2 separate regions of the Homo sapiens genome follow, and region 1 is linked to region 2. The links come from fine-mapping of genetic effects on gene expression. Tissue or cell type: whole blood. Region 2 holds a variant in brackets; the other region holds the start of a gene. All regions are shown on one strand. Distances are from middle to middle. Region 1 holds the start of PLA2G12A (phospholipase A2 group XIIA). Region 2 overlaps PLA2G12A (phospholipase A2 group XIIA).

Evidence for each region.
Region 1: PLA2G12A starts here. The variant in region 2 is fine-mapped to the expression of PLA2G12A in whole blood (TOPMed, PIP 0.93).

The regions. Positions count from the first base shown.
Region 1 is chr4:109,722,058-109,738,857 of GRCh38, forward strand. PLA2G12A (phospholipase A2 group XIIA) reads right to left here and starts at 8,013. Exons shown (of 4, transcript NM_030821.5): 1 at 7,545-8,013. The coding sequence starts at 7,752. It also overlaps a transcript of CFI not described here. RefSeq lists enhancers at 7,402-7,471, 8,131-9,007 and a silencer at 7,802-8,141.
Region 2 is chr4:109,699,576-109,716,375 of GRCh38, forward strand. It overlaps PLA2G12A (phospholipase A2 group XIIA), which reads right to left. Exons shown (of 4, transcript NM_030821.5): 4 at 10,414-14,920. The coding sequence ends at 14,802. It overlaps CASP6 (caspase 6), which reads right to left and starts at 3,870. Exons shown (of 7, transcript NM_001226.4): 1 at 3,781-3,870. The coding sequence starts at 3,820. RefSeq lists enhancers at 2,472-2,531, 3,292-3,351, 4,242-4,291 and silencers at 3,532-3,641, 3,792-4,081. The variant A/G (reference allele first, on the strand shown) is at 8,040.

The DNA.
Region 1 (16,800 bases), 22 kb after region 2:
AAATATGTTAGATCAAGTCTTTTTCTGCTCAGAGACGCTTTAATGGCTTCTCATCTTATTCAGAACAAAAGCCAAAGTCTATAAAGCCTATGAAACCCTGTATAACCTGGTCTTCCCATGATTTCTCTGACCTCATCCTCTTCCTAGTCTCTCTTCCTTTCTTCCTCAACCTATTCCTCTTTGCTGTTCCACAGACACTGCAGGTCTGCTCCTGTCCCAGGGCCTTTGAACCTGCTCTTCCTGTATGTGGATGCTCTTTCTCCTGACACTAGTTTCTCCTTTACTGCTATGGTTTGAATGTTTGCATCACCCCAAAATTCATGTTGAAACCTAATCACCAATGTGATGGTATTAGAAGGTGGGACTATTGGAGGTGATTAGGTCATGTGGACAGATCTCTCATGAATGGAATTTGTGCCCTATAAAAGTGGCCCTAAAGAGCTGCCCTGCCCCATCCATCACCATGTGAGGACACAGCTAGAAGGTGCCATCTATGAACAAGGAAGTGGACTCTTACCAGACATTGAATCTGCCAAATGCTAGATCTTGGACTTCACAGCCTCCAGAACTGAGGAATAAATTTCCATTGTTTATAAGCCACCCAGTTTAAGGCATTTTGTTACAGCAGCCTGAACAGACTAAGACATTCACCTTCTCAGCAAGTCTTCCCTGACCATACTATTTGTAGCACATATGACCTTCTAACATACTATATCACTAATCTACCTATTTTATTATGTCTCCCCATCCGAAAATGTAAACTCCTCGAAAGCAGACATTTTTGTGTTTTGGATTCCCAATGCCTAGAACAGTGCCTGGAATAACTTTGTGATGAATTTTTACAATAAGTATGTGATGAATTAATGAACAGAAGACTTGGAAGGCTTGGAATATTCATTATAAATGGAGATTATCCGTTAAGAAACCCTGCTGTTTGCCCTAGAGTCTCTTTTGGGCTTGGTGAGCATTCATCAGCCAGCCTCCAAAGACTGATGACTTCTAGCTTGTCACATCTCTTTAAAATACAGCACCTCAGACTGAACACTGTAGGGTAAGATGGGCTTTTTAACCTTTTGTGCTGGATAAAGTACTTGTATTAAAACAGCCTAACACAGTATGTTTCAGCTGTGCCTGACTGCTAACATAGACAGTAGTAAAAAAAAAAAAATCATCAGTTCTTTCTAAAATGGACTTTTTAATACTTACTGCTAGAGGCTTAGCACTTCTGCAATTTAATTTTGAGTCTAAATATAAGATTGTATATAAGATTCAATCTTGTTAGTTTCAGTTCACCATTCTCGACTGCTGAGCAGTTTTTAAATCTAGAGTTATTCACCCAGTGTTGCCTGTTGCTCCCAGATATTCACAAACTTAAGATGCAGATATTAATCAGGACAGAGGTCCACTACAGATGAGTCCTCTCTCCAAGCAGCCGTGAAGTCATCAAATAGTAACCAGTTTTTCTCACAGGAGTATCATGAGAAACTATACATTTATCTATAGTTTTCTTTGCCCTAACACACTATAAATCTCTTCACAGAAAAGGAGGCTGGATCAGCATTTAATTCTTGGGAAGCCCATTCTAGTTCCTCAAGCTTCATCATGAAACTCTCTTTCGTCAGGGGTTTTGACAATCAACTGTTCAAAATGTTTAGAAACATATCTAGAGATACACACTAAGAAATAGGTCAAGTTGTTAATCTGAAAAAAGTACAATAAATACACCAGAGAATGTTCAAAAAGTCTGGAAACAGGAATAATAGTGTATTTACAATATATATTGTTCAGGTTAACAACTGGACTGTTTTAAATTTAGAAGTATATCATCTAAAAAAGTGTCTAGTGGTTAATGAAAAACATATTGAGTGTGTCATTTGAAAATAAAACATAATGTTTATCCTATGTTTCCAACTTTTTAGACACCTTGTACATTCTCCCTCCCTCCCATCTGCCAGTCTAGAGATTTCTGGCACCTCACCCTGTTCCATGAGAAGCAAAGATTACCACCCTCAGACAACCGATATGGGCCTATGGCTTTAAAGACATGTGTCTCAATTGTCTTATTTTGTTTGTTTGTTTTTTTCTGAGACTGAGTTTTGCTCTTGTTGCCCAGGCTGGAGTGCAATGGCATGATCTCAGCTCACTGCAACCTCTGCCTCCTGGGTTCAAGCGATTCTTCTGCCTCAGCCTCCCAAGTAGCTGGGATTACAGGCATGCGCCACCATGCCTGGCTAATCTTGTATTTTTAGTAGAGATGGAGTTTCTCCGTGTTGGTCAGGCTGGTCTTGAACTCCTGACAGGTGATCCGCCTGCCTCAGTCTCCCAAAGTGCTGGGATTACAAGCGTGAGCCATCGCGCCCGGCCTTTTTTTTTTAATCAGAAAGATACTTCCCTCAATGTACATACAACAGCAGTACTTCTATTTTTCCTTCCTTTTGTATTTTATCTAAATCCATAGACTCTGATTTCAAATCTATAAAAACATTCCTGATGCTGATGATGTGTGTAATGACAGTGATACATATATATGTGTATGCATGCGTGTACATATATAGACATTTTCTCATAAGAGATAATTACCTTTGAATGGGAGAATGATCAGACACAAATGAAGTCAGAAAAACTAAAAACATGCCCACCATAGGAGAGTAAAGAGGAAGAGATAGTACAGAGAAGGACAACTGGCAAAAATGAGAATGGAGGTACAAGGAAGTAGGAGGCTGCTGTGCCAAACAGGGCTAGTGGTTATAACTGTCTGAAGAAGAAAAGTTGATAAAAATCAAGTAATAAAGAGCCAACATCTACTGTACATGAAAAACTGGATAATAACACCATGAAATAAATGCTGGTAAAAAGTTTGGCTCCCCAGTGTAAATGGCAAAAGGGGCATATGTGTATGGTTCTTTAGTTTTTTTCAAGGCAAACTCCTAATGTCATTTCTTCAGAGAGGCTTTCCCTGCTTACCCAATCTAAAATAGCACCCCCTCTCTTTCTAGCATTTATTGACCTAATTAACATTAACATTAGTCGGTTTCTATGAAGAAAGGACTTAGTCTTGCTCACCTAGAAGATATTTAGCACACAGTGGGCACCCAATAAATTACCAGATTAAAAAATGGGAAACATTCTTTGATGAAATTAAAATAATTCTTTATCCACAGCAAAAAACTGAAAACTTGGAAGTAACTAGTTTCCTGAGAAATTCTAAAGTATTTTGAAATTCTAAATTCACCTTTAAATTAAAATAGTTATTTCTGAACAAGGCAAGTTATATAGACAGTTCTTTATTAGAGGTTAAGTTGATTCAGACACCAATGTTACAAATGTATTAATATTTTAAATTTTGTTATAGTTTTATAAATGGCTAAGCATTTTAAAAATTAGCATTTCTACTGGTGCCAGTTTTTACAAATAAAGCAAAAACTCAATAATGGAAGAAACAAAATCAGAGTAACATCAAAACACCATGATGTGTTGCGGCCATTGTCCTCTAAAATTTGTAAGCGGATACAAACCAAATCCACTGTGTACAACTGCATGGAAAGACTATTCATTAATTTCCATTTTTGACTTAAGCAATAGCTCCTTCTCTTGATTGTTTATCATTTGTATGGACTGCAGAAATCTAAAGATTTTCATAGACTGAGACAAAGTTGATTATTTTCCATGTATTTTTTCTAAATTTGATGCAAATACTTCCAGATAGACCAACTGTTTTCACCTGACAGAATATGAAGCAGATGACAAGCACAAGAAGTAGTCTGCTGGGTCACACAAAGGTCTCATGGCAGAGTTTTGTAAGATTCCAACCTGCACTCCCAAACACTTGAGACTTTAAGTATTCATGATCATTAATCTCCAAAAGGTCCTTATATTACTTTATTTTTCTAGTCTGTTCACTTTTATATTTTCCTCAAATCTCCAACATCCCCATTCCCCATCTTCTCTGTCAGCTGATGACCTGGATTCCTACTTTACTGAAAAAAGCAGGCAATCAGGAGAACTTGAACATCCACCCACTTAACCAGCACCAGTGCTCATATCCTCTACCTGTGTTCCTATTAACAGGGCTATGCTATATGCTCTTGGCCAAACTCTCTAAGTATGTACTAGAAACTACCCCCTCTCACTTACCCAAGGCTATGACTCCAATAATTCTCTCCCTCGTCAGTATTTCTACTCTCCACTGAACCATTCTCAAAAGCATACAAATGTGTTATTATTTTTCCTAATGCCCGAAAACTGTTCTTTCCACGGTCTTCCCCATATCAGTTAATGGTAATTCTGTCCTTCCAGTTGTTCAGGCCAAAAACTGTGGTATCATTTTTGACTTAACTCATACCTAACTTCTAAGCCATCAGCAAATCTTTTAGGTCCTTCCTTCAAAATATATCCAAAATCCAACTACTTCTCATTACCTCTGTTGCTACCAACCTGAGCAAAATCACCCGTCTTTTGTCTGGACTCCTGCATGCGTCACCCTGCTTCCATTTTTACTCCCCCACTCCCTTGACCCCTTCTGTTCTCAGCACAACAGCCAGAGGGATCCTAGAAAACATACGTCACTGAATTAATTAATGACTTATTCATCATTCTAAAAACATTTACAAGCCAGTTTTGTGTTCTATTTTTCAAAGGAAATCGAAAAGTTTTCTTCCTTAAATCTTCCTTGCTGTCAGGGAGAAAAAAGTTGAAGAAAATAACGGATCATCAAATTTATTTCCCTAAATACTTAACTCTCAATAAGGCCTTTTTCCTACCCAAGAGAGGATGGCCAAAACTAAGGGAGCAAGTCTCCATAATGCCAGTCCCTCAGGTAAAGCAAGGACATGTGCCCTTTATTTGACCAACCTCTCCCTACCATTAACTCACTCTTTTTTTTTTTTTTTAAAGCTCTCTTGATCTCTTTCGTGCAACTAAAAATACCCCTTAATCACCATGTTTCTCCAGATTTGGGATTGTTCTGTTTGGTTCTGATTTGGTCACCTGAATTCCAAAATATAGGAAAGGTTGAATTGTTCCAGAGAGACTGCTCGAGTAACAGCAATTTTATTATTATTATTATTATTATTATTTTTGAGACAGAGTCTTGCTCTGTCACCCAGGCTGGAGGCACGGTCTCGGCTCACTGCAACCTCCACCTCCCAGGTTCAAGCTATTCTCCTACCTCAGCCTCCCAAGTAGCTGGGACTACAGGTGTGCACCACCATGCCCAGCTAATTTTTGTATTTTTAGTAGAGACGGGGTTTCACCATGTTGGCCAGGCTGGTCTCGAACTCCTGAGCTCAACTGATCCGCCCGCCTCAGCCTCCCAAAGTGCTGGGATTACAGGCATGAGCCATTACGTCCTGCCTAATTTTTTTTTTCATTGAGATCCAATTATCTATCAGTATGGTGACTTGGACTTGAAACCACATGTCCGTTAAACGTAGAGTACTTACTAAGACAAAAAATTTTTTTTCACTGAGGCATATAACATTTCTTAAATTCTCAAATTCCTTTGTGTTTTTTTGTGCCAGAGACCTTCCTCTAAACTCCAAATAGTAAATTTTGAGAAGCCTGTAGAAGATGAAAAAGATTAAAAAGAAAGATTAAGCCAGGTGTAGTGGGGGCATGGCCTATAGTCCTAGCTATTTGGGAAGCTGAGGCAGGAGAATTGCTTGAGCCCAGGAGTTGGAGGCTGCAGGGAGCAATGATCACACCACTGCCCTCTAGCCTGGGCACAGAGGGAGACCTTGCCTCAAAAATATTAACAAAAAATAAAATAAAAAGACTAAAACAGTATTTTAACAAGGCTGGTATTCATTCAACTTCAGGCATGTTTTAAATGTAAATAAACTCTAGAACCCTAGACTAATAAATTTATGAAGACGACTCCTTCCAAGTCTTCCCTATCTCTGTAAATGGCAACCGTTTCCTTCCTTTGGCTCAGGCCAAAACCTTCAGAGTCATCCTTGACTGGCCTTTCTCCTCAGGTCCATTGCACTTGCTATTCCCTCTGTCTGGAATGCTGTTTCTCCAAATAACCACATTCCCTCCCCTTACCACGTGCAGATTTCTTCTCAAATATTCTTTCATCAGTGAGGCCTTTGCTGAACAACCCATTTAGAAGAGTAAATTGCCTCCAACATGGCCCCTCGTCTGCCCTGATCAGACTCCACACTTCCCCTAATTTTACTTATTTACTAGTTTACTGCCCATCTCTCCCTCACCAGAACTCAAGCTCCACGGACAGAGATTTTTGTCTGTTTTATTAACTGCTGAATCTCAAATTAGAACAACATCTGAAGCACAGTTGGGACTCAAATATTTGTATAATGAATAGGAATGACTAAGTAAAACTGTAACATTTGCTTTAGGAAAGGCAACTATTTGATCCTTAAATTATGCACTTAATCCTCCGAACAAGTTCTACAAGAATAAAAACATCTTCATGAAGCATACGTTTAGGTGGTAACGTTTAGGCACAAATTTAAGAAGCAATGCAACATGTCTCAGCACCTGTTCAGCGCTTTAAAGTATACAAGATACAGTTCATCCTTTACTTCTATTAACATAAAACTAGAAATTATCTTGAAAATTGCAGGCAGCATGTGGCATCATAGGTTTACATGATACCAGTTCCTTTTAAGTTCACCTATACAATCAGGTTCCAACAATGAAGTCACTGGATCCCCGATTATTTTCCGCTGCCAGCATAATGAGACTCTAACCTTGGCTAATCTTATTGGAAACATGATCTCCCAACTGCTCTCTTAACATTTTCAATTTCCAAACAAAAGTCCAATATTTTTCTGACCTATTAAAATATTTAAGCACTCAAAAATGTGCTACAAAAGAACTATCTCTGCCTGAAATACTGAGTTGATTAGTACTCATACCGCCACCAAACAAATTCTCAGGTTCAAAGAGAAAGTTCAAAAAATATTAAAAGAGTAAATGAAGATAACTGTATTAACGTTAACCAACAATGAGGAGGAGGCGGGTCACTGATATCTAAGGAAAGAAGAGTTATCGGAACCCTTTCTCAACACTCGAGTACACCAAAAGTCTGTACAAAGGTCGCAAGTTATTGTCTATGGGTTTGCAGAAAAAAAACCATTTAATATCAATTATAGAGAAAGTTAATACGGCATGGTTTTTAAATTCTCAGTTTGCTTCGCATGTTCATCCAATTTACAGAAGCAAAAATGAGCTAAAACCAGTCTGTTCCACTCTATTCCCATGATTCCTACGTCAGTAAGTTCTTCGGCAACTTGGTGCAATTGAGGGGGGGAAAAGGTAATTCAGAAGCAATGCAAATGGGACGGGGGGTACACCTCTCCGTTAGAATGTGACCTCTCACATTCTAACAATAGTGGTGCGAACTTGTACCCAGCTTGCTCAATCACTAGAACGGCAAGATTCTAGCAGTGGTTAAGTTTTTCCACAGCCGAAGGACACCGTCAAGGTCTGCCTTGCATCTGTCACTCACACCTCCAGGATCTCCGTCACCCCAATCCCCCGAAAGCACGAGCCCTCGCTGGGCCCGGGTGCCCCCTCACCGTCACTGCATTTATACTGGCAGAGACCGTCCTCGCCTCCCAGGAGGTCCAAGGCGGCGTTCAGGTACGTGTCTATCTTATGAACGCCGTTCCGGATGGTCTTCAGGGTGGCTCTCCAGTCGGTGGTCTGGGCCTGCTCCTGGCACCTGACAACAGCGGCCATGAGGAGGAGCAGGAGGGTGAGCGCGGGGCGCGAGAGCAGGGCCATGCGCGCAGCGCCGGGCTCTACGGGTCCCCGAGCCGCGGCGCGGGGCGCGTCCCCACAGAGTCCCCAGGACGCGCTAGGCAGCGGCGCGGGCCCCGGACTTGGCAGCAGCCAGCTCCATATCCACGCCTCCTTCCCGGCTGGCCCTCAGGATCTCGCTGTCTTTACGTGAACCGCCTCGGGCAGGCAGCGCCGTCGCGGGGACGCGCCCGCTCACCTGGACCAGCGCGCCCGCTCACCTGGGCCAGCAACCGTCCCCTGTGCGCCTGCGCCGGAGCACGGCGCGTCAGCGGCGCACGGGAGGGGCGGGACGCGCAGGGGTGGGGCGGGGCGGGGGCGGGGTTGGGGGGGGCGGGGAACCGGGGGAGGGGCGCGCGGGGCGGGAAACGGGGGCGGGGCCTCCATGCCCACGTGGTCTCCGCGGCACCCTCCCAAGACCCTTGGTCCTGGTTCACAAGAGAACCTTAAAAAGTACCCAGGCCTGAGCCCCTTTTCTAGGGAGCCTGATTACGTTGTCCCAGGTGGCAGTGGGCGTCGGTATTTTTTAAGAAAGCTCTCCGGGCTGTTAACCGTGAAGCAAGAGTTGCAGAGCTAACCCCGGTGGCCTAACCTGACCAGTCGGGGCTCAGCACAGTAGCCCCGAGAGACAAGCTTTTCTGGGTGTGGACAACATCGGAGAAAATAACCCCTGTGCCCCCTCGCAGAGAGCGCTGCGAGAGGTCCAGCTGAGTTTCCGGCTTGAAGACGTGGTTCCATTGGCAATGTGGGCAGAGTCCGGCTGTCAGCTCGCAGAGCAGGGCTTTTCCTCCTTGCGTCCTCTCCCGGTCCTCCAGATCTGCTGTGGCCGCGGTTGGGGGAGCGGGATCTGGAAGATGCCAACCCATGCCTTGGCGGTGCCTGACTCTAATCAGGACGAGCTAAATGCTAGTTTAGACTTTCCGGAAAAAGAAAATGGGCCAACATAAAAATCATAAAATTCTCCCCTGGTAAGGAAGAAACAGTAGTGTAAACTTAAATACAGTAAAAAGTAAAATAAATCTTAAGGAAGTCATTGTTTTTCTACTCAAGGGATTTTGTAACTTGATAGTTACAGTGACGTTTGTTTCTCTGTACCTACCACCCTGCCCCCAGCATTGTGCGGGATCCATAAATAACTATTGCAGTAGTACTTTGTATCAGTTGTAAATATCTGGTTATCTTAGTATCACAGCAGTTTCCAAGAATTTTACAGTAAGATCCAGAGCAATGTTGAAAGTATTGGGCAGACCAAGCGCGGTGGTTTACGCCTGTAATCCCAGCACCTTGGGAGGCCTGGAACTCCTGAGGTCAGAAGTTCGAGACCAGCCTGGCTGACATGGTGAAACCCCATCTCTACCAAAAATACAGAAAATTAGCTGGGCGTGGTGGCGGGCACCTGTAATCCCAGCTACTCGGGAGGCGGAGGCAGGAGAATCACTTGAACCCAGGAGGTGGATGGATGTTGCAGTGAGCTGAGATTGCACCACTGCACTCCAGCTTGGGGCACAGAGCGAGACTCTAAAAAAAAAAGAAAGTGAGTAAGTATTGGGCATAGGTGTGTCCTTTCTATAAGAATTACCAATAAGTTCTAGGTTTGGCCTTTTGTGTTTGTTACAAACTAAATGAGCTTATAATAAACGTTCAGTGCACAGTTCATAAAAATTACATCCCTCTTTATTGAGTGCTTACTATGTGCCAGGCACTTCATGAATATGATCGCTCACATTCAGAACACTACTTTACAAGGATGCAGACTTTGGGCAAGTTAGAAACATAGAAAGGCATTCCTCCCTACAAACAGGGTAGCCCAACAAACGGTGTAGCTCCTGGCTGGAGACTGCCTGCACTTCACTCAGCCCCTCAACCAGGAGTCTTGGGCAGTGATTAATTCCTACCACAATGGAGAAGGGGGAAGAATGTTCCCTGGAAGGTATTATTATCTTCCTCTTTTACAATAAAAGAGTCGAGGTGAGAAGTCATGTGACAGTATCTACTCCAAACCAAGGCCTCTGTCTTCACAAAATACCACAGATATTTTTATTTTTTAATTTTTAGACAACACATTTCAATACATTTTAAAAAGGGAACTTAGAATCATTGTCTTAGCTTTCTGGAACATTGGTTTCTCAGCTCCAAAGTATGAAAGTTGGACTAGATTACCTCTGAGATACCACCACCTGAATCCTTAAACCAGGCTTGGTTCTTACAACTCCCTAGTCCAGGGACAAGACTTTCAAAAGAAAGGATAGAATGTAATAAAATAACCTAGTTCCAGCCCTCAGTTATGACCCAAAGCCTCTCCTTTCCCCCACTTTCTCTATTTATTTACTTCTTTGTGATCTCATCTAATTTCTTACACCTTAACTACAGCCTATACTCTGAGGAATCAGACGTAGTTTTCTTTGTCTGATCTCTCCTTAGGGATTAAATTCTCAAATGCCAGTTCTTCTGGCTTGATGCAGCTGTTCTCTTTCTCTCAAGCAAATCTTTCCACTGTCTTCCCCATGAGAATCACCACCATTTTTGTAGAAAACAAGACTCTAAGTTTTATTTTCACATTCTTTTCACATTTAATCATTATATATTTGTTGTTCTGCTGCAGTAATTACAAGGTTTACGTTTTCCTCTTAATTGATGCTGTTAAATACCAGGGATCTGCACTGACCACAGACTATCTGTATAATTTGTAGGGCTCAGTGCAAAATAAAAATACAGAGCCCCTTGCTCAAAAATTAAGAATTTCAAGGTGATGGCCGGGTGCGGTGGCTCACGCCTGTAATCCCAGCACTTTGGGAGGCTGAGATGGGCAGATCACGAGGTCAGGAGATCGAGACCATCCTGGCTAACACGGTGAAACCCTGTCTCTACTAAAAATACAAAAAGTTAGCTGGGCATGGTGGCGGGCACCTGTAGTCCCAGCTACTCGGGAGGCTGAGGCAGGTGAATGGCGTGAACCCGGGAGGCAGAGCTTGCAATGAGCCAAGATCGTGCCACTGCACTCCAGCCGAGGCCACAGAGCAAGACTCTGTCTCAAAAAAAAAAAAAAAAGAATTTCAAGGTGATAACAGCAGAGCATTAAAATAAGTACAGAGCCCTTTTGACTGTGGGGCCTTGTGCCACTACACAGGATGCATGCTCTGATTTACCATATCATATAAATTTTTTTTTTTTGAGTCTGGCTCTGTTGCCCAGGCTGGAGTACAGTGGCACAATCTCAGCTCACTGCAACCTCCGCCTCCCAGGTTCAAGCTATTTTCCTGCCTCAGCCTCCCGAGTAGCTGGGATTACAGGTGCCCGCCACCACACCTGACTAATTTTTTGTATTTTTAGTAGCAATGGGGTTTCACCAAGTTGGCCAGGCTGGTCTCGAACTCCTGACCTCAAGTCATTCCCCTGCCTTGGCCTCCCAAAGTGCTGGGATTACAACATGAGCCACTGTGCCCAGCTCATCTCACGTAACTTCTAGATGACCCACTTCCATCTTTTCTTCCCAAATTTTGGCATAAACTGTTTGAAAAGAGCCTTCTTTACAGGACACTTTCATCTAACCAGCAAAACCTGTTATTTTCATGACAGACATCATTAGTTGCAAATCCACAGCTGTGTTCCAGGTCTTTCCTGCTAGAGAGTGGCTAGCTTGTCTATATATACTTTGTGGTGGGCAGAAGCTGAAGATAGGAAGTCAGTTATGATACAGTAATCTAGGTATGGCATAAGTATGGCTTGGTCCAGGAAAGGAGCAGTGGAGGTGTGAAAAGTGGTCATATTCTAGATGTAACTTGATGGTAGAGCAGAAGGGATTTGCTGATGGACTGAATATGAGAGAAAAAGAGGAATCAAGGATGGCATTGAAATTTTGGCCTAAGCCACAGGATAGAGAGAGTTCTAACTGTCAGAAATGGGGAGAATTGTGGAAGGAGAGGGTTTTGCGGGAAAATTTTAAAAATAAATTTCAGTCATACCATATCCAAGAAGCTTATTCTGAGTCTGCAGTTCAGCATAAAGGTTAGAAACGCATTGGGAAGTTGTCAGAATAGAAATGGCTTTTAAAGTCATGGGGCTTAGCTGGGCGCAGTGACTCATGCTTGTAGTCCCAGCACCTAGGGAGATCAAGGCTGGCAGATCGCCTGAGTCCAGGAGTTCAAGAGCAGCCTGGGTAACATAGCAAAACCTTATCTCTATAAAAAAAATACAAAAATTAGCCAGGCATGGTGGTACATGCCTGTAGTCCCAGCTACTTGGGAAGCTGAGGTAAGAGGATCCTTTGAGTCCGGAATGCAGAGGTTGCAGAGAGCCAAGATTGCGCTATTGCACTCCAGCCTGGCAACAGAGCAAGACCCTGTCTTAAATAAATGAATAAATAAATAACATGGGACTAAATGAGATCCTCTAAAAAGTGAGTGTACACAAAGAAGCAGAGCAAGGTCTAAGTCTTAGGAGGTCAAGGAAAAAAGAACAAAGGCGCTTAAGAAGGAGCAGCCAAGTGCAGCAGAAGTGGAAAAGTGCTATATTCTGGTGTGTCAAAGAAAGACAGAACCACCCATTCTGCTGATATGAGGAAGGTGAGGGCCGGATATTGACTACTAGATTTAGTAACTTGGGGGTTATTGGTGAACTTCACAAGAGTCTCATTGAAGTACTAGGGAGAAAACACAGTTGTAGTCAGAGGAAGAAAAGAATTAGAAATGGCGATTACAGGCAGGACGCAGTGGCTCATGCCTGTAATTCTAGCACTTTGGGAGGCCAAGGCGGGCAGATCACACGGTCAGGAGTTCGAGACCAGCCTGGCCAATATGGTGAAATCCTGTCTCTACTAAAAATACAAAAAAATTACCTGGGCGTGGTGGCAGGTGCCTGTAATCCCAGCTACTCGGGAGGCTGAGGCAGGAGAATTGCTTGAACCTAGGAGGTGGAGGTTGCAGTGAGCTGAGATCGTGCCACTGCACTCCAGCCTGGGCAACAGAGCAACAGTCTGTCTAAGAAAAAAGAAAAGAAAAGAAATGCAATTACAGTGAATATCAAAATAAATTATGAAAATATAAAATATACTATATTTGTGCTTATTCTTGTCTGAATGATATATTAATAAATACCTTGGAATGGGAGATTCTGGGTGGCCAAGACTGGCTTTCTTTTCTTTTCTTTTTTCAGAGACAGAGTCTCATTCTGTCACCCAGGTGGGGGTAGCATGATCATAGCTCACTGTACCCTCGAACTCTTGGGCTTAAGCAATCCTCCTACTTCAGCCTCCTGAGTAGCTAGGAATACAGGTGTACACAACTGTGACTGGCTAATTTTTGTTATTGTTATTATAGAGATGGGGTCTCCCTGTGTTGCCCAGGCTGGTCTTGAATTCTTGGGCTCAAGTGATCCTCCTGCTTTGGCCTCCCAAAGTGCTGGAATTACAGTCATGAGCCACCGCACCCAGCCCTACACTATATTTTCTATATAGAACTTCCCAGAACAATAATCAGGATAGGCAGTCAGATCTCAGATCTCTTCTAGAAACACCAAATGGTTTCTTCTATATATATGAGCATCATGGAAAAACATGGTAGTATTGATGAGATGAGAATGCAAAATTTGTGGGGTTTAACGTACCACATTAACTTAGAATGCTTGGAAACTACAATATTACACAATGCTTTGTGTTATTTTAAATAACAAAAATCAATAAAATATTAATGATAAACAGCAATTTCTATTTTTTAGTATTTTCCAATGTCTCACTAATGGCCTCAGCAGTGTTGTGATGAAAATAAAAGCCACGTGGTGAAAACAGTTCCAGCCATAATGGTTAATTTTTGTCCAGGATGAAAATAAAAGCCACATGGTGAAGCAATTCCATCCATAATGATTAATCTATGGCTAGTGCCAATGTCGCGGGAATCAGGCGGATGAGAGAGACTTCGGGGTAAAGCAGGAGGATCTTTATTGAGTGTACTCAGACTTACATCTGGAAAACTGGGCCTAGAACAAAGACAGCACTTGACTTTTATACACACTTCAAAAAGGGAGTGGGCTAGCTTGAAGCAGGCTTACAGTTACAGTGGTGTGAAAGCAAGGATACAGAGGCAGAGCAATTAATCAAATTGTGACAGGTTCATAACTCAGGATTACACATGACCGTTGCTGTGCAACCCAGATGTCAGTTATCTAGGTTTTCCTTTAGTGCCTAGCACAGCTTATTCCATGACCTTCACTATGGCGTCCAGGTGGCTGTATCTCAGGCCTGCTCAGACAGTTTATGACCTTCACTCCACTACTTAGATAAAACAGAATGCTTGAAGTTGCTAGTTACAGAGAACAGAAATCTATAAACTCATACTATAAGAGAAAGGAAAATTTGTTTTTCTTCTCCTTATGTTGAGGGAGTGCTGGGAGAGTCTCCAGAGCACATTCCTTTGTGTCCTAGCTTCTTAGATAGTGTTTATCAAGACTCTTTTTCCTGGGTCTGGGCCTTGCCTGCTACTGCCTTTGGGATGAGTCAGCCTAATACAGGAAAGCTTACTTCTTTCTCTTTTTAATTTTATTTTTCTTTATTTCTTTAATTTCCCACCGCACCAAGGCTAGAAGTTTCATCTCTAAAAGGGAACTTAAGTTAAAGAGAAATAAGTACTAGGTTCCAGCCTTTGGCTAGAAAGTCAATGGCATTAATAGCTTTCAAGCTGGGACAAAGTGAAGGGCAAGAGATGGCTGCACCAGATCTATGAGCATGGGCTTGTTCCATAATATGTTGAAGACAATGATCCTCTGCTTGGGTATGGTGGGGGGTCTACCATCAAGAAAATTTGATCAAAAAGATATTTTCAAGGTATCTTTGTATGCACAATGTAAGATTGCTTGGCACACAGGAGGGATGGAAAGAACCCACTTAGTTGAGACTGCAGGGTTTTAAGCCATCAGGACAGAGTCCGTATGTAGTTCTTCTAATTAGGGTTCCTGGCTACTTCCAAACCTCTGGTTGATTTTCAGCTTCGTATTTCCTATCACGTACTGTACACCTTCACTGGGCTTCCTTAGACATCACAACTTCAAAATATCCCTAACTGTCTAAATCTGATTCCATTCCTCTACTTCCTTCCTTTCTGTACTCAGTGGCAACACCAATCACCTCACCATCTAAGAGACTGGGAATTATCCTAGTCTCAAATCCCTCTCCCTAGTACTGTAATCTATTTGTCCCCAAATGCCATCTATTTCACTCAACATATCTAGAGTCAGTGCCATCCTTTTTATCCCTGCTTTAGTTTCTACCTTCATTATTTTTCATTTGATTACTCCAAGAGTGTCTTAACCATCTTCCATACCCTCTCTCACCCACTTCCAATACATCTTCCTTGCTGTCTCCAGCTTGAACTTCCTAGAATCCTTTAATGGTCCAAACTCTTTGGTATGAGGCTCTCCCTGGTATGGCCTTTCCCCCTCTCCAGCTCCTTAGCTGCACCCTGGGCTCCAGTCACTATGAACTGCTCTCCATCCTTGTGTGTGGTTAGCTCCTCACACTGCAGGGCCTTTGCATTTGTATCTGCCTGGAAAGTTCTTCCATAATTCAGACTAAGCTCACCTCTGCAGAAGCCCTCTTTAATATGTCAGGCTGGTTTCTAGATCTCCCTTTAGTTTTCCTTACCATTGTACCTGGCAAGGTGCAGCCGCATAATTTATTTTCCCATTTCTCTTGTAAGACAGAGAGCTCTGAAACCAGGGTTAAATATAAGACGATGGCAGAGCTCCACATCCAATGAGTTGTGTCCCTGGCCACCTTCAGGCGAGCTCACAGAAGCAGCAATGTCCAGTGCCCAGGCTCTGCAGTACAAGCTGTACGTGGAGACTGGGACCCATGCTAGTGGCCATGGTAGTCTCTGATGGAGCAGTCCTGCAGTGTGGTCTGTGAGCGTTATTTCCAGATGTGTAGACTCCAATTCTCTGGCTCTTTTGGAAATTCTGTGAACTGCATAATATCTTTGAATAAATCTATTTTTTCATTAAACCAGTTAGATTGGCTTCTGTAGTCTGGAATTAGGAGCGCTGAGACAGACCTCTAAACTAGGAGAAGCTTGGAGTCAGGTCATCTCACTCCTGCTGTTCCTGGTCTCTGTCACATAGAGTCGCTTCAGAGGGCTGACTTTCACCCTTCAAGGCTTGACCCTGGTCTACTTTTCTGTGAAGCTGCCAGATGCTAGGTCACTGTGCAGACTGGCTTGGCCCTTTTGGGGGCCCCCTTCCTAGATTGGCTGAGGATGCCCTATATGCTGGGTTTCCCACCTTGTAGCACTGGAGTACTTTTCTTTTTTTTTTTTTTTTTTTTAAGACGAGGTCTTGATCTGTCACCCAGGCTGGAGTGCAGTGCTGCAATCACAGCTCACTGCATCCTCAACCTCCTGGGCTCAAATGATCCTCCCACCTCAGCCTTCCAAGTAGCAGGGGCTGCAGATGTGCACCACCACTCCCAGCTTTTTTTGTGTGTGATAGAGATGGGGTCTTGCTATGTTGCCCAGGCTGGTCTCAAACTTCTGACCTCAAATGATCCACCAACTTTGGTCTCCCAAAGTGCTGAGATTACAGGTATGATCCACTGCGCCCAGCCACTTTTCTCTTTTTATCTCATACACAGACATATTCTAAGGTGCTGCGTTGCTCCCGGATTGCTGAGTCAGGACAAGGTGGTTTTCAAATATGTCCATAAATTCTTTGATACACCTCCTCCCTGCCGCCATCAAGAGATGGGTTATTTCCTTTCCTTTGAGCCTGGGCAGGTCTTTGTGATGCTAAGGGACTTCCAAAGCTGGGTTAGAGAAGGCCATGCAGGTTCTGCAGTTTCTCTTGGGAGGCTCATCGGCTGCTATGTAGGAAGTCTGGTGCCCCCGGCCCTGCCATGTTAAGAGCCCATGGGGAGAGTGCAGAGAGACATATCTGAGAAGCCCCAGCTGTCTAAGTCCGCCCAGCCCAGGCACCAAACACATGAGTGAATAAGCCTTCGTGATAACTCTGGTCCAATCCTGTCTGACGGCAACAGCATGAGAGACTGGAAGG
Region 2 (16,800 bases):
GTTAAAATGCAGATTCCTGGATCCTAACTGAGGCAGAATCAGAATCTTGGAGGAAGGAGGTGACAGCTGCATTTTTCACAAAGTGATTTTTACACTAAGGTGTGAGAGCCAAAAGCAACCTCTCCAACTGGTCCTCCCCGCTGCATGGCAGATGAGAAAGCTGTTTAATCCGACCTTTGCCCTAGGTGAGCACAGTAACGAGGTACTTCCTACTCCACACACTGCTCTATGAAGACAGCACAGGGATTTCACTCTTCCCATTTTCAAAAGCTGTCGGAATCTACTGCCTTTTGATAACCTCACCTGCTTATCTTTTAACCAATTAGAGTATAAAGAAACAATAACTTCAAGAAAATTAAATCCATATGTCACAACCATCCTCCTCACATGCCAAAATTCTGCACAACTTGGAAAGCACTCATGTCTCAGTGTCCTCCTCGGTGGCAGCAGGCCAGCGGCTCACCTCCTGTGGCTTCTGCTCCATACTGACTGCTGAGCCGAAGGCGGCTCACAACCTAACTCATGGAAGCTGTGCCAAATGGCTGCTCAGCAAACTAACTCATATCCCTCAGGGTGAAAACACTGGAGATGTATTCTTGCTTGGGTCTTTAAAACTCTTGTTTCTCATATTGCCAAAGAAGTAGCTTCCCAGTTGTTAGCTGACACATTAAAATTAATAACTTAAGATGTGAGTTTGGGTTGTCTCAAATATGCCCTCACATTAGTCAAGACCTACAGGTTTAGGAATGGCTAACTAGTATTAAGTAGCTGCTCAAGAAAATCTGTTTAAAATGACGTTCTGGCCGGGCATAGTGGCAAGCCTATAGTCCCGGTTACCTGGAAGGCCAAGGCAGGAGGATCTCTTGAGCCCAAGAGTTCTAGGACATAGTGTGCTATGACTGCCCCTGTGAATAGTCACCATACTCCAGCCTGGGTAACAGAGCTAGACCCCATCTCTTAATACATTCAGTTTCAAAGTTAACAGATTTGGCAACCTCAGTGAGGGATTTTTTTTTTAAGTTTTTTGTTGTTGTTGTTGTTTGTTAATGCTACGGATGTAGAAAAAAACCTAGGCTCTGGACATCCCAATTCTGATGCTGGCCAGCTGTAACTTACCTTCACTCTCACAAAGTGCACCCTGCATCCTGCAGTACCAGTTAATGACCAGGTCCAGTGGCCACTCTAGCAAACACTGAATCAGAACAAAAAGCTATGGAGACAGATGCCAGGACCTAAGTTCCAATACTTTTCTGGAGTTGATAAACTTTACCCACAGATTGAGAGAAAATAACACATCATGACCACCTTGAGCTGTGTATCCCAAGAAGACAAGCTTTCCAGAAGGGGGCACTTAAGTATCATTATGCCGCATTAATATTTATTTTTTATTACTATCTTTTTGGGATGGAGTCTTGCTCTGTTGCCTAGGCTGGAGTGCAGTGGCGTGGTCTCGGCTCACCACAACCTCCGCCTCCGGGTTCAAGCGATTCTCCCGCCTCAGCCTCCTGAGTAGCTGGGATTACAGGCATGCGCCACCACACCCAGCTACTTTTTTTTTGTATTTTCAGTAGAGACAGGGTTTTGCTATGTTGTCCTGGCTGGTCTTGAACTCCTGGCCTCAAGTGATCCACCTGCCTCAGCCTCCTGGAAGTGCTGGGATTACAAGCATGAGCCACCACGCCCGGCCTGCGTTAATATTTAAAAACCTGGATAAAGTAAGAAATAGCTTTATTGATATGGAGAAAATAAATTTTAATGAAGGAGCTACCCTGTATAACAGATATAGAAATTCCTTTTCATCTGCAATCTACTTATCAAAAATGTGCCCTTCTTTAAACCTGATTCTTGACCTCTTTTCACTTTTTTTTTTTGAGACAGAGCCTCCCTCTGTCGCCCAGGCTGCAGTGCAGTGGCGCAATCTTGGCTCACTGCAAGTCCACCTCCAGGTTTCAAGCGATTCTCCTGCCTCAGTCTCCCCAGTAGCTGGGACTAGAGGCGCCCACCACTGTGTCTGGCCCTCTTTTCACTTCTCTTCCTTTGCAGGATAATGTAACTGCCACCTCCTTATTCCTTAAATCAGCTTAGGTTTTACAAAACTAATCATTCCTTTTTTCACCTCACTCTAATTTGATAGTCCCTCCAGATAATCCTGCCAGCTACCATTTGTTGATGGCCTGATGCCTTAGATACCTTATCTCACAGCTCCACAGCTCAGGAACAGGGACAGAGAAAGTGGGCCAGGCGTGCCAAGGTCGGCAAAGTGAAGCTGGGATTGAAAGCCAGCCCACCTACAGATTCCAAAGTCTCTGTAGGCCCATCCCCACGCAGCCCCTCCCACCCGAGACCGGCTACCTTTCTAAACTTTGTTCAACTTCCCAAACGACTTCGGTCATTCTACTGTCATCGTCTTCATTCACTGCACTCTCTATGAAAATCTACCCATCGGCTCCATCAACAATGTATTTAGTAACCCTATGTAGAGTAACCTCCATCAGGCCTAGAACATGCACTGGGGAGTGCGGTGGAGGAAGAAGAGGAAGGGAGCAGGTGAGTGAAGGAAAGCCCCGGCTTCCCGCCCCTAGAGACTGCAACTGGACCCTGCACTGTGCCTCCAGGACAAGGCTACCTATCTACCTCCTCTACGACCATGTGACTTTTACAGCTTGCCTCTGGAGCACCATTTCCTTTGTGCAGCAAAATATAAAGAGTTCTTAAACAAAGGCACTCTAACCAACTGCAGGCGTTTCGTTCTTTTTTTTTTTTTTTCTTCTTGATTCGAAGTCTCACTCTGTCGCCGAGGTTGGAGTGCAGTGGGGCGATCTCGGCTCACTGCAACCTCCACCTCCAGGGTTCAAACGATTCTCTTGTCTCAGCCTCCCCAGTAGCTTGCGCCCAGGCCTGGCTAATTTTTTTGTATTTTTAGTAGAGACGGGGTTTCACCGTGTTAGTTAGGCTGGTCGAGAACTCCCGACCTCTGGTGATCCGCCCGCCTCGGCCTCCCAAAGTGTTGGGATTACAAGGCGTGAGCCACCACGGCCGGCCAACTGCAGGCGTTTCGACCTTTTTGTTTGTTTCACTCTGGCCAGGCTTGAAGTTTCTAAACTTTACCAGTAATAAGTGACAGAACGTACGCTCTTAGCAGTTGATTACTTTGCAGAAAAAAGTTATTGTGGTTTTGGCTCAAACCGACAGACAGCAGCAGGTTTCCTGGATGAAGAAGAGAGATACCGGGGTGTGCTGGCCGCCAGGAACTGGCCGCCTCCAGCTGAAGCCCGGGAGGACCCAGGGTCTTGGCCCGGGCACCCCGCGGGCCTGTTATGTTTTCATTATGACTCGGCGGAACAACCCCTCCTTTTCACTTTTCGAAGTGAGCAAACAAAAGATCCAACCCCCAACATTTCAAACGGCCAGGTGTGGGGGAACGCCAGGCCCGCGTGGGGACAGCCTTTTAAGGTTTAAACAGCCGGGGCGCCCCGAAAGCGCTCATCGCCCCGGAGGACAAAGGCGGCAGGGGCACGCCCCGGCGCCGGCGTCGCTACTCGGGACCGCCAGGAGGCGGCAGCCAGGTCCCCGAGTGTTTCTTAGACTGAAGCGCGAAACCGTCCCCACCCGCCCTGAGCGCTTCAATCCAAGAGTGCAACTTCTCCAGGCCGCCCTGCAAAGCCGAAGGAACCCGCGGCCCCACTCCGGTCCGCGCGCCCGGTCCACTAACCCTCGTTTCCCCTCCAGCCGGAGCAAGACGCAGACCTGCTCGGTGCCCAGTCGACGCCCCCTGCCTACCTGCCGGGTGCCCCCTGCGGAGCCCCGAGGCCGAGCTCATTGCAGCCAAACGCGCAGCCAGACACCTTGCCCTCCTCTTCCTGAAGCCACAGGCTCCCGGGCCCGGCCCCGCCCTCGGCCCTTCCTCGGCGGCCCCGCCCCCTGCCCCCGAGCGTGGGGCCAGTTGGTTCTGATTGCGCGCCGCCCGGGCTCCCGTGGATCGGGCTGGTCCTTCCCAGAGTTAAAGCTCCTCCCAGTCGCTCCGGAGCCCGCGGGGACCAAGAGCGCGGGGGCAGGGAGAGGTACGCGGTCTTCGCCTCCAGGCCCGCTGGGACTAACCGTGCCCTGGGGACATGCCAGTTGCCACCCGGGGGGACACACAGACCGCCTAGCCCGAGGCAATTTCACATCACTTGTGTGAGCTCGGACTCATTTAATCCCAGCTGCCCCAAACATTTGCTATTCCTTACTTTGCTATGCCTGTACTTTCTAGAGGTACAGGCATAGATTGTTTTATACCGCTTAGCAGATACTGCCTGTATTTCAACATTGGCTCGCTTTGTGTCTCTGTGTCACATTTTGGTACTCTCGCAATATTTCAAAATTTTTCATTGTTATTATGTCTGCTGTTGTGATCTGTGATCAGTAATCTTTAATATTATTGCAATTGTTTTGGGGCACCATGAACCGCGCTCATAAAGGAAGGGGAAATTAATCCATAAGCCCTGTATGTGTTTGGACTGTTCCACCGAACTTTCCCTTCTCTCTCCCCCTCCTGGGGCCTCCCTATTCCTGGAAACACAATTTTGAAATTAGGCCAACTAATAATCCTACAAAGGCCTCTAAGTGTCCAAATGAAAGGAAGAGCCTGTCACTTTAAATCAAAAGCAAACATGATTAAGTTAGTGAGGAAGTAATGTTGGTAGGCAGAAAGCTAGGCTTCTTGCTCCAGTTAGCCAAGTTGTGAGTGCAAAGGAGAAAAGCCAAGTCATGAATGCAAAGGAAAAAATTTTGAAGGAAATTAAAAATGCTACTCCAGTAAACACACAAAAGACAATAAAGCTAAACAGCCTTATTGCTGATATGGAGAAAGTTCTAGTTGGTCTGGATAGAAGATAAAAACAGCCACAACATTCCCTTAAGCCAAAGCCTAATCCAGAGCAAGGCCCTAACTCTTCAATTCTATGGAGGCTGAGAGAGGTGAGGGAATTGCAAAAGAAAAGCTGGAAGCTAGCAGAGAGGATGGTTCCTGAGGTTTAAGGAAAGAAACTATCTTCATGACATAAAAGTGCAAGGTGAAGCAGCAGGTGCTAACGTAGAAGCTGCATCAGGTTATCCAGATCTAGCTAAAATCATTGATAAAGGCAGCTACACTAAACAACAATCTTTTGTTTTTGAGACAGTCTTGCTTTGTCACCAAGGCTGGAGTACAGTGGTGCGATCTTTTGCAACCTCTGCCTCCTGGGTTCAAACGATTCTTCTGCCTCAGCCTCCCAAGTAACTGGGATTACAGGATGTGCCACCATGTCCAGGTTAATTTTGTATTTTTAGTAGAGACAGAGTTTCACCATGTTTGGCCAGGCTGGTCTTGAACTCCTGACCTTGAGCAATCTGCCCGCCTCGGTCTCCCAAAGTGCTGGGATTACAGGTGTGAGCCACCGTGCCCAGCCAAAACAACAGATCTTAAATGTATATGAAACGGCCTTCTATTGGAAGAAGATTCCATCTAAGACTTTCATAGCTAGAGAGAAGTCAATGCCTGTCTTCAAAGCTTCAAAGAACAGGCTGATGCTCTTGTTAGGGGCTAATACAACTGATGACTTTAAAGCCAACATTCCTTTACCATTCTGAAAATCCTAGTGCCCTTAAGAATTATGCTAAATATGATCTATAAATGGACCAACAAAGGCTAGTTAGTGACAGCACATCTATTTACAGCATGGCTTAGAGAATATTTAAAGCCCACTGTTGAGCTCTAGTGCTCAGAAGAAAGGTTCCTTTCAAAATATTACTCCTCATTGACAATACACCTGGTCATCCAAGAGTTCTGATAGAGATGTACAGAGACTGATGCTGTTATCGTGCTTGCTAACACAACATCCATTCTGAAGCCCAGGGATCAAGGAGAAATTTTGACTTTCAAGTCTTATTTACAAAATACATTTCATAAGGCTATAGCTGTCATCATGATTCCTCTGATAGTTCTGAGCAAAGTAAATTGAAAATCTTCTGGAAAGGATTCATCATTCGAGATGCCATTAAGAACATTTGTGATTCATGGGAGGTCAAAATATCCACTTACGGTATGTAACTAGAGACTAGAGGGGGAAAAAAAGAAAAACGAAAAATTAAAAGTACATGTATCAGCCACAGTGGCTCATGCCTGTAAACCCAGCACTTTGGGAGGCCAAGGTGGATTGCTTGAGGCCAGGAGTTTTGAGACCAGCCTAGGCAACAATGCAAGACCCTGTCTCTACAATTTTTTTTTTTTTTTAATTAGCCAAGAGTGGTGGCACATGCCTGTATTCCCAGCAACTCAGGACACTAAGATGGCAGGATTATTTGAGCCCAAGTTTGAGGCTGCAGTCAGCTGACTGTGCCACTGCACTCCAGTCTGGGTGACAGAGTAAGACACTCTTTAAAAAAAAAAAAAAAAAAAAAAAAAAAATATATATATATATATATATATATATATATAATATATATAAAATACATATATAAATATTTAAAAATTATATATATTTCAATTGGCACACTGGGTGGTATTTTACAGGCAGGACAACATACCTATCCATTTTATATATATATATATATATATATATATATATATATATATACACACACACATATACACACACACATACATTATACATAGGTATATGCATATATCTCCACATTAACAGGAGTTTGAAAGAAGTTAATTCCAATCCTCATCACTGATGTTGAGGGGTTCAAGACTTCAGTGAGGGAAGTCACTGTAGATGTGGCAGAAGTAGCAAGACAAATAGAATTGGAAGTGGGGCCTGAAAATGTGGCTGCATTGTTGCCATCTCATGATAAAACTTTGATAGATGAGGAGATGCTTTTTACGGATGAGCAAAGAAAGTGGTTTATTGAGATAGAATCTACTCCTGGTGAATATGCTGTGAATTGTGTTTAAATGACAACAAAGGATTCAGGGTATTAGTTGACAAAGCAGTGGCAGGGTTTGGGGGGATTGACCCCAATTTTGAAAGAAGGTCTGTGGATAAAATGCTACCAAACAGCATCACATGCTACAGGGAAATCTTTAGTGAATGGAACAATCAATGGATGGCCAGGTGCAGTGGCTCATGCCTGTAATCCCAGGACTTTGGGAGGCCAGGAGTTCGAGCCCAGACTGGCCAACATGGCAAAACCCTGTCTCTACTAAAAATAACAAAAATTAGCCGGGCACGGTGGCAGGCACCTGTAATCCCAGCTACTCAGGAGGCTGAGGCACAAGAATCACTTGAACCAGGAGGCAGAGGTTGCAGTGAGCCAAGATCATGCCACTGCACTCCAGCCTGAGTGACAGAACGAGACTCCATCTCAAAACAAACAAAAAAATGAAGCAAACTTCCTTATTGCCTTATTTTAAGAGATTGCCAGTCATCCCAGCCTTCAGCAACTACCACCCTAATCAGTCAGCAGCCCTCAACAATACCCCACACCAACATTTATAACTCGCTGAAGGCTCAGATGATCCCTAGCATCTTTTAGCAATATTTTAAAATTAAGGTATATACATTATTTTTTTAGACATGTTATTGCACACTTAACAGACTACACTTTAGTATGAAAAACTTTCATATGCACTGGGAAACCAGAAAATTTGTGTGACTCTTTTATTGGTGGTCTGGAACCAAACTCGAAATCCCTCTGAGGTATCCCATAGGGGGTGGCATATATGTTCCTGTTTCATGTGTAGTCCTTTCCCCAGTGCAAGTTACTTTGTAGGACTTGCAGTAACTTATTTTAAATGTTCTTTGTATATGAAACTTGGGCCAAAGTAAACTGGAGGTAACTCCTGGATTTTTTTTTTTTTTTTTTGAGACAGTTTAGCTGTTGTTGCCCAGGCTGGAGTGCAATGGCATGATCTCAGCTCACCGCAACCTCTGCCGCCCGGGTTCAAGCGATTCTCCTGCCTTGGCCTCCCAAGTAGCTAGGATTACAGGCGTGCACTACCATGCCTGGCTAATTTTGTATTTTTAGTAGAGATGGGGTTTCTCCATGTTGGTCAGGCTGGTATCAAACTCCCG[A/G]CCTGGTATCTGCCCACCTTGGCCTCCCAGAATGTTGGGATTACGGGCATGAGCCACGACACCTGGCTTCTCCTGGATTTTTCAAATCTGGCTTTCATAGGTAGAGCTAATTCAGGGACAGAACCATGCAGAAATTCACAGAATGATGAGGGTCTCTAGATAATGGTGTTTCCTGGGGAGAGCATGTTGTCCTACCCCAAAAATAGCAGCCAAACAGTGTGCCAACAAGGTGCCATGGGGTGCTCAATGTTGGATTTAATTTAGCTCCTCCTTGGGTGGTTGGCTATTGTAAAAAATTTACTTTGACAATGCTTTCAGATTTGATGAAACGGTGGCTTTATCTTTTGTAATTCCTCTGGACCTTGTAATTTTAAAAGTAAGCAACCTTAGAGTGGGAAAAAAATTAAAATGTGTTAAGGCACCACTTCTAATATATTAAAATAAGTATAATGAATACTTAAGAAATAAGTATAAGGAACTCATCTCATACTATTATTTGGGAGAGAAAAAATCTAATTTGGTAACTTCTACATGTGCCTGTGGTTCAAGTCTTGATGTCATTAGAGTACGAAATCAAAGAAGGGTTTTTACTCAAACCATTTACTGTTCATTGTATGCATAAAATATTTCAGAAATCACTGTCTTAGTAACTTATCCTGCAACAAAGACATGGAATTTCCATATTTCCCTTGTATGGTGGTTGTGATGATTGGGTTAAGTGACTGTGAAGGACTCAGAATACTGCCTGCCATGTGAAGAGCTCAATGAATATTGGTTATTACCATCTTGTTGTACTCGTTGGAAACAGCAGTGGCATTTTTTGGTTTCCTCATTACCTACCCCAGTTGCCTTGCATGTGGCTCAATATTTAGCCATTGACTACAATTCAGGGTTTTCACATTTACACTCTGGCTTTTATCCAGTCTGAATGAGTTATCTGACCACCAGAACTTCCAGTCCTTTGGCCTCACTTTCAGGGTCTCTGAGTCCTGAAAACATTCCCTCGACAAGAGTGGAACTCCAGTTGGCTGACGTTCTACTTATCTGAAAAGAGCAGATGGAAGGAATTTGTCATTTTTTCTCCATAAGTATCTTATTATCTCAACATTACTACTATAGTCTATGTGGTTAAGTATTTTAAAACAATATTTTGTCTACCTTTTTTTCCCCTTATTCACCACTGATCAGGATTTTGTCTAAAAACATAAATACAGAACATTTTCTTGGGTACTTATTTCAGAATTACAAATGTATAATTTTAGCCTCTTAAAGCAACAGCTAGCCACAATAAAATGGCTGAGTGCCTGGGACTGGGAAACAGGCTGCCCAGGTTCTACTCACGGCTTCCCCATTTTATTTGCTGTTAGATATGTGACAGGTAATGCAACTTAACCTCTCATAGCTTCAAACTCTTTGTTGTAAAATGAGGTCCAAATCTATTCCAGAGTTTTTGAGACAGTAAATTGCAAACTCCTATGAAAGTACTGAACCCACAGCAAGCTTTCAGTACATTAGTTATTTTCAGCACTGAAGATTACCTAAACTACTTCCCAAGCTGTGGTCTATGAACCAGCAGTATCATCATCTGAGAACTTGTTAGAAATGCAAATTCTCCTGTCTACCCCAGACCTACTGAATCAGAAACTCTGGGGGTGGGGTCCAGCAGTGTGTTTTAACAAGCCTGCCAGTGAGTCTCACGCATGCTCATGTTTGAGAACCACCAACATAGACTGGAATCCTACCAAGCACTCTCTTCCCTCTCAAAGAAAAATATTCCCACAGCAAATCCATTAAAATTCAGATACACTAAGTTAACTGACAGGATGACTTGATTCTTCCTATATCTGAATAGTTTTCCATAAAAGTGACTTATTGAAACTGGTTTGCCCTCATATCTCAATCGTGTCTTCATTACAGCTTCTCTGTGCTCAATGTCTCCTTTATGAAATAAACAGCCATCTCTGTCCCTGGAAGAAATGTGCCAAAAGATTTTAAGGAGATAGGCATTATTCAAAGGCAATATATTATTTTAAAATATAAATAAAAGTGGAACTTATTAAAACTGAAGGTCTTGGCTTGTCACCTATCATAGGAATGAAATATAGGGAATAAAGTTAAGTTCAGAGATAATTCTACAACTTAAAAATTTTGGTCACTGATTTTGGTGTTTAATATTTTTTCTTACAGAATTCATAGAAATATTAATTTCTATGATGATTCTGATTGCTATACTTAAAACTTGAAAGCCAACAGAGAAATGTTTGTCAAGTTGTCAACAAGGAGATTTTTGAAGGATGTTATGGAAACTGAATAAGTAAGCCTGAGGCAAAAAGTCTAACATCATTGTGACATATATAAAAGATGACACTAGTGATCCCTTTACAGTTTTATTAATAATTATTATTTTTCGTATACCGGTTGCACTGATTCATTTTTGCTCTTTTATTTTTTAGGCAGATGGCTGGTTTTTGTAGGATTAAGCAGTGAGGAAAAACAGCAAACTAAAAATGCTACTTCAAATATAGCAACAGTCACTACATAAGGCTTAAATCAATATATTGCAAGTAATTTCTATGAATTTTGAACAATACAATGTAGTGTATGTGGAAAGATCTTGCCTAATAAGTTTCATTCTACTCCTCAAAGTTACTGAAGTCAGTCAACTATTAATAACAGAATTGTTTTTATAGAAAGATTCCATCTTCTTTACTGTTAGATGTTATACGTGTCTTGTACTAGGATAAAATAATGAGCATTGTGCATCGCACCTTCTGATAATCTCATACTTCTATAAATACTAAGATAAATAATCACTCTTTTAAATTTAGAGAGAGTTGGTTTTAGGCTAACAATTTTTTTTCTTCTTTCCAAGACAGAGTCTTATTCTGACGCCTATGCTGGAGTGCAGCAGTGCAATCTCAGCTCACTGCAACCTCTGCTTCCCAGGTTCAACCAATTCTTGTGCCTTCACCTCCCGAGTGGCTGGGATTACAGGCATGTGCCACCACACCCAACTAATTTTTGTATTTTTAGTAGAGACAGGGTTTTGCCATGTTGGCCAAGCTGGTCTCGAACTTCTGACTTTGAGTGATCTGTCCGCCTTGGCCTCCCACAGTGCTGAGATTACAGGCTTGAACCACCATGCCCAGCCTCTAACAACTAATTTTAATAAGTATTACTGGACTAGTCTACAGGTTCACTGAAAGAAAGGCTACCTGTGAGGATGCGTTTAATTAGCTTTTGCCCTTATATCTCAATTCTGTCTTCATTACAGCTCTGTGCTCAGTTTCTCCATCTATGAAATAAATACAGCCATATCTGTCCCTGGAAGAACTATGTCAAAAGATTTTAAAGAGACAGGCATCATTTGAAGGCAGTATTATTTTAAAGTATCAATATTACATTTCTTGCAAAGAGCTGCTGACAGTTAGTTCTTGCCTTTTTTTTTTTTTTTTTTTTTTTGCTCTTTTAATGAGTTTATTCTGTCAATAGGGAAAATATCAACTTTAAAATCTAAACATATGCCACAAAATTTTGGGACAAATTTTGAGTTGAAGACGGCAGTACAAACTCATGTTTAGCTTTGTACACACATAAATAATTATAGATGTGTACATATGCATGGATTAATATACATACATATTTCTCAACTCTGCTACAAACAGTGACATCCCAGTAGCAACAAGCACATCTAATGCCCAGATCTTGGTTTCTAAGTATGATTCTCCAACAAAAGGAACCAGGGCTCTTTGGAGCAGGGGTTGATTCTAGGGATTCTAGGGTTGGGGCAGGGAATATCCAAGATGAACCTGGAGCATCTTGTAGTGCCAGAAAGTAAGAAGTGCTCAAAAATCAAAAGGATGGGCACATCAAAGGGACATAGTAGCCAACCTGGCAGAACTCCTAATAGCCAAGCTGGACAACTTAAGCAACAAAATAAATACTGTGTTACCCAAAATACAAAATATACATGAGTCCATACTGATGTAAACAAATTAGGGTGGGAGGGAGAAACAAATTTTCCATATAGAAAAATTCCAAATACTACATATGGATATTCCCACTTCCAGGGGGTTGAATGTAATCTTTCCCACCCACCACCTCCCATGACTGGACTTAGTGACTGTTTTCCAAAGAACAGAAGTATGGAAAGGGAAAATAACAGTAATTTTCAGCAGCAAAAAACCAACACACACTACCTTAACCAAGTGTCCAAAGTTAATACACCATCAAGCTGATAGCATGTAACTCCTGACATGATGCAGTGAGAAGGACCTTCACCTCTGGTATTCTTCCTAAAAATCTATAACCCCACTCTAACCATGAGGAAAACATCAGACAAACCCAAATTGAGGAATATTCTACAAAACACCTGACCAGTACTCCTCAAAACTGTCAAGGTTATGAAAAAGAAAGACTGTGGAACTATCACAGACCAGAGGCTAATTAGGCATGACGACTAATTCAGTGTGGTATCCTAGATTGGATCCTGGAAAAGAAAAATGACATTAATTAAAAAACTAGTACAATCTGAAAAATAAAGTCAAAGTTCCGTTAATAGTAATTGCCATTGCTGGTTACTTAGCTTCTGACAAATGCTTCATGGTTAAATAAAAGGTTAACACTGGGGGAACTGGGTGAGTGGTCACAGAAGCTCTCCATGTATCTTTGCAACTTTTCTGTAAATCTAAAATTATCCCAAGTTTTTTTTTTTAATCTGAACATAAAAAACTGTTTCTACTGATTTTTGTATAATTTGTGATCACGAATTATATTTTATAACGATATTGAGTTTGTCCTTTTGAGAAAGCCAATGCTGCTAACAAAATCCATGAATTCATTGTAAGTGTAAAGTTACCTGGACAAATATTTCAATAGTAAATATTGATAAACCATTTTTTTTTTAGAGTCTTGCTCTGTTGCCCAGGCTGCAGTGCAGTGGCACAATCTCAGCTCACTGCAACCTCCACCTCCTGGGTTCAAGTGATTCTCGTACCTCAGCTTCCTGAGTAGCTGAGACTATAAGCATGCGCCACCACGCCCGGCAAATTTTTGTATTTTTAGTAGAGACGCTGTTTCACCATGTTGGCCAGCTGGTCTCAAACTCCTGACCTCAAGTGATCCAACCGCCTCAGCCTCCCAAAGTGCTGGGATTATAGGTGTGAGCCACTGTGCCCAGCCGATAAGCATTAATTATTAATAATGGCTTACAAAACTGTACCTTTTATAAAGGTTTGAAATAAAGAATCAATTGAGGGTCCCAAACATTTAAGTGGAAACCCAGTTTGCTCACTTAGCCACAAGGCATACATGTGCCTTGTCTCACTGGAACAGCTGCCACCAATTCAAGTTGGAAGATACTAGGTTCCCGGCAATGACATATCTCCAAAGTTAGGAACATGGCCCTTTCTCCAGAACATACTTTTCCTTCTGCCCTGTTCTACCTGTAATGACTTACAAATAACCGCCTCTCCCTATGCTGTCCTTCTCTGACTTTGAAAGTCAGTTCATCTTAATAACTTTGGCCATGGGTCACCCAAAGGATATATATGGCTTGAGGTCCCAGGCTAGGGAAAGGTTAACAACCAGTAGTCAGCAAAGACCGGTCTAGGAACATAACTGAGCATTCCAAGAGATTGAAAAGTTTTCAACATTCATAGACATCTTCAGAAGCTGTTGAAGTTTTCTTGGATTTGCTCTAAACATATGGTAATAATTTTCAATGTAAATAAGAGATCTATAAAAGGCATTTATATCTTGCCTTTTCCATCCTTTTGGCTCTAATTAAAGGCTTTTTGAAAAGCAGTATCAAGCACAAATTTTAGTAAGACCACAGTTAGTAAAAGGTTACAGTCTTTAAAAAATCTACAATAAGGAACAAGTGCTGGGAAATAAATAACAAAGCATAACAGCAAATAGTGCCTTGATATATTAGGTTAAATATCTTTTCATTTATCTCATTAAATCCATCTTTTCTCTAACTTGGCAAAGGTTATAGCAAAAGATGACATTTGTCATGTGAGTAGCTCATAAAATGGGAGTGGCTATGCTTCTGAATCGCATTCACATCACCTTCTAGGCATATTACATAACACTTAGCTATCCTGGGGTTGCTCCCTACGAGGTTATCAGCTGATGGTTCCAATTTTACAACTGGAAAAATGGAAACCTTGTCCTTGTAAGTAGTCCTAATAGAAATGTGACTTACTCATATGCTCAACGGGCTACAGAGAAACAACATATTATGTTGTACTTTAATTACATATTATGTGTAATTAAAATAGAAAAAAAAAGTCCGTTCCTTCTAGGCATAAATGTGTATTTAAAATTTCATAGTAAACAAATACTTGTAAGTGATAATTTCCCCATTTTCCAAATAAGATAATGTTGAACAGACATTATGATGAATTTTATATTTGATCTCTTTTTTTGGTAAATGTGGTTGTGAAAATTGAGTTATATATTCCTCTTTTCAAAATTCTCCGCTAAACAAGCACTTGTTTTTGATATTGGTCAAGACATTTGGCATACTAAGTAAGGGAGCAATGCTGGGGAAGATACCTGAGAAGACAAGCGTGCCCTCCCCTCACTATCTCCCTCACTTTTTTTGCTTTGAGGTTTTAACATCAAGATATAAATTATTTTAAGGTCTCAAAATAATCCTTTCACAAAAATAAGACAGTTTTATGTTGTAAAAACATTAGTTATTTGTCAAAGGTATGTTCTTCCATCTTCATCTGTCACTAGCTGTCGGCATCTCCTTTAAAGATCAGTTTTTTCTTCATAATGACACCTGCATGCGGCTCGTTGGCTGTCCAGATATGGTTTACAACCTAAATGTATAACACTGTCAAACAAGAGCTCCACTGTTGTTTCACATGCTGCAAAACAAGAAAATGGGATTACTGTTGGGCAACTGCATTGCTCTTTTCACCTATGTTACACATTACAGCACAGCAACAAGCATATCCCTCGTGAGCACTGAAATGTATGCTAGATGAAATCACCAAACTCTCACAACCTGTAGCATATTTACATACACACATATATATCTACAGATTTCCAGTTTTAGTCTCATGCATCTTATTTTTTGTTTGCATTCAACTGTTTAACCCAATTTTTTTTTTTTTTTTTTTTTGAGACAGGGTCTCACTCTGACACCCAGAGTGGAGTGTCATGGTGCAGTCATAGCTTACTGCAGTCTCCACATCCTGGGCTAAAGTAATCCTTCCACCTCAGCCTCCTGAGTAGCTGGCATTACCATGGCCAGCTCATTTTTAATTTAAATTTTTTAAATTTAATTTTTAATTTTAAACAGACACACAACACCACACCCAGCTATTTTTGTTTGTTTGTTTGTTTGTTTGTTTGTTTTTAGTAGATATGAGGTCTCACTATGTTGCCCAGGCTGGTCTCAAACTCCTGGACTCAGGCAGTCCTCCTGACTTGTCTTCCCAAAGTGCTGGGATTACAGGCGTGGGCCACCATGCCTGGCCCAATTGTTTAAACTAGACAAATAAAAGTCTTTTAAAATAGCACTGATTAATCAGTGTTTTAACTTTCTTTTTATTTGAAAAACATAATCACTAACAGAGTTGTCTGATAATACTCTTAAATTTGCATTTTAAGAAAAAATGTTTTATGTGCGGAAGAAACAAAGTTTAAAAATTGAAATCTCAAAACATTTCATTATGGCCAATGGCTTCTGAGGACTGATCATACATCAGTTAAGAGGCTTAAAGTAAACGGAATCCAATCTCTTTGACCAATGTCCTAATTTGACTTGGGGATATGGGAGCATATAAATCAAAAGTATTTTTCCCCAGTCAGGTAGGTTTATTTTATTTATTTATTTATTTATTTATTTATTTTATTTATTTTTTTGAGACAAGGTCTCACCTCACTCTGTCACCCAGGCTGGAGTGCAGTGGCATGATCTTGGTTCACTGCAACCTCTGCCTCCTGGGTTCAAGTGATTCTTCCACCTCAGCCTTCTGAGTAACTGGGACTATAGGCGCCTGGCTAATTTTTGTATTTTTTGTTAGAGATGGGGTTTCACCATGTTGGCCAGGCTGCTCTCAAACTCCTGGGCTCAAGTGGTCCACCAGCCAAGGCCTCCCAAAGTGCTGGGATTACAGGCGTGAGCCACCGCACCCGGCCCCAGTTAGGTTTTTAAATTTTTTGAAGACTATGAAAAGGTAATTTATTTACTTTTCTTATTCTAAGAAACCTGAAACATCCAGGTGAGATTATCTTAACATGTTACACTTACAGAGATATAGCACAGAGTGGCTTTTAGTTATCCAAATACTTTTCGTTTCAAAATATTCATGTTAAGGAAGAAACTTGTCATTACAAAATCTTAACATTTTCAAAGTTCTCCAAAAGACTTTGCCATTAAGAAACAACCAACCACAGAAGTGGAGAGGCTATGACTATTAAATAGGAGGTTACAAGATGATTGGTTTCACATTCTTCTTAAATCAGAAAACAGGAAATAAATCTATCTATGCTTCAGGTTTACAGCTAGTTTACCTTAGCCAAAAGCTGCAAAGGGATACAGAGGCTGTGAATTCAAGATTACCTGCAGCAGAGATTTCTTCCTTGACATGAATTATTAGGATATTAGAATCAGGGCTATAATATGAGACTATTTGGAGAATACTGTATAATAGACAGAACACAGATTTTAAAGTCAGGCTAAATGCTCACTTGGGGCAAGTTACTGTTTTCTGAACCATCGTTTCCTTCCTTGAAAAAT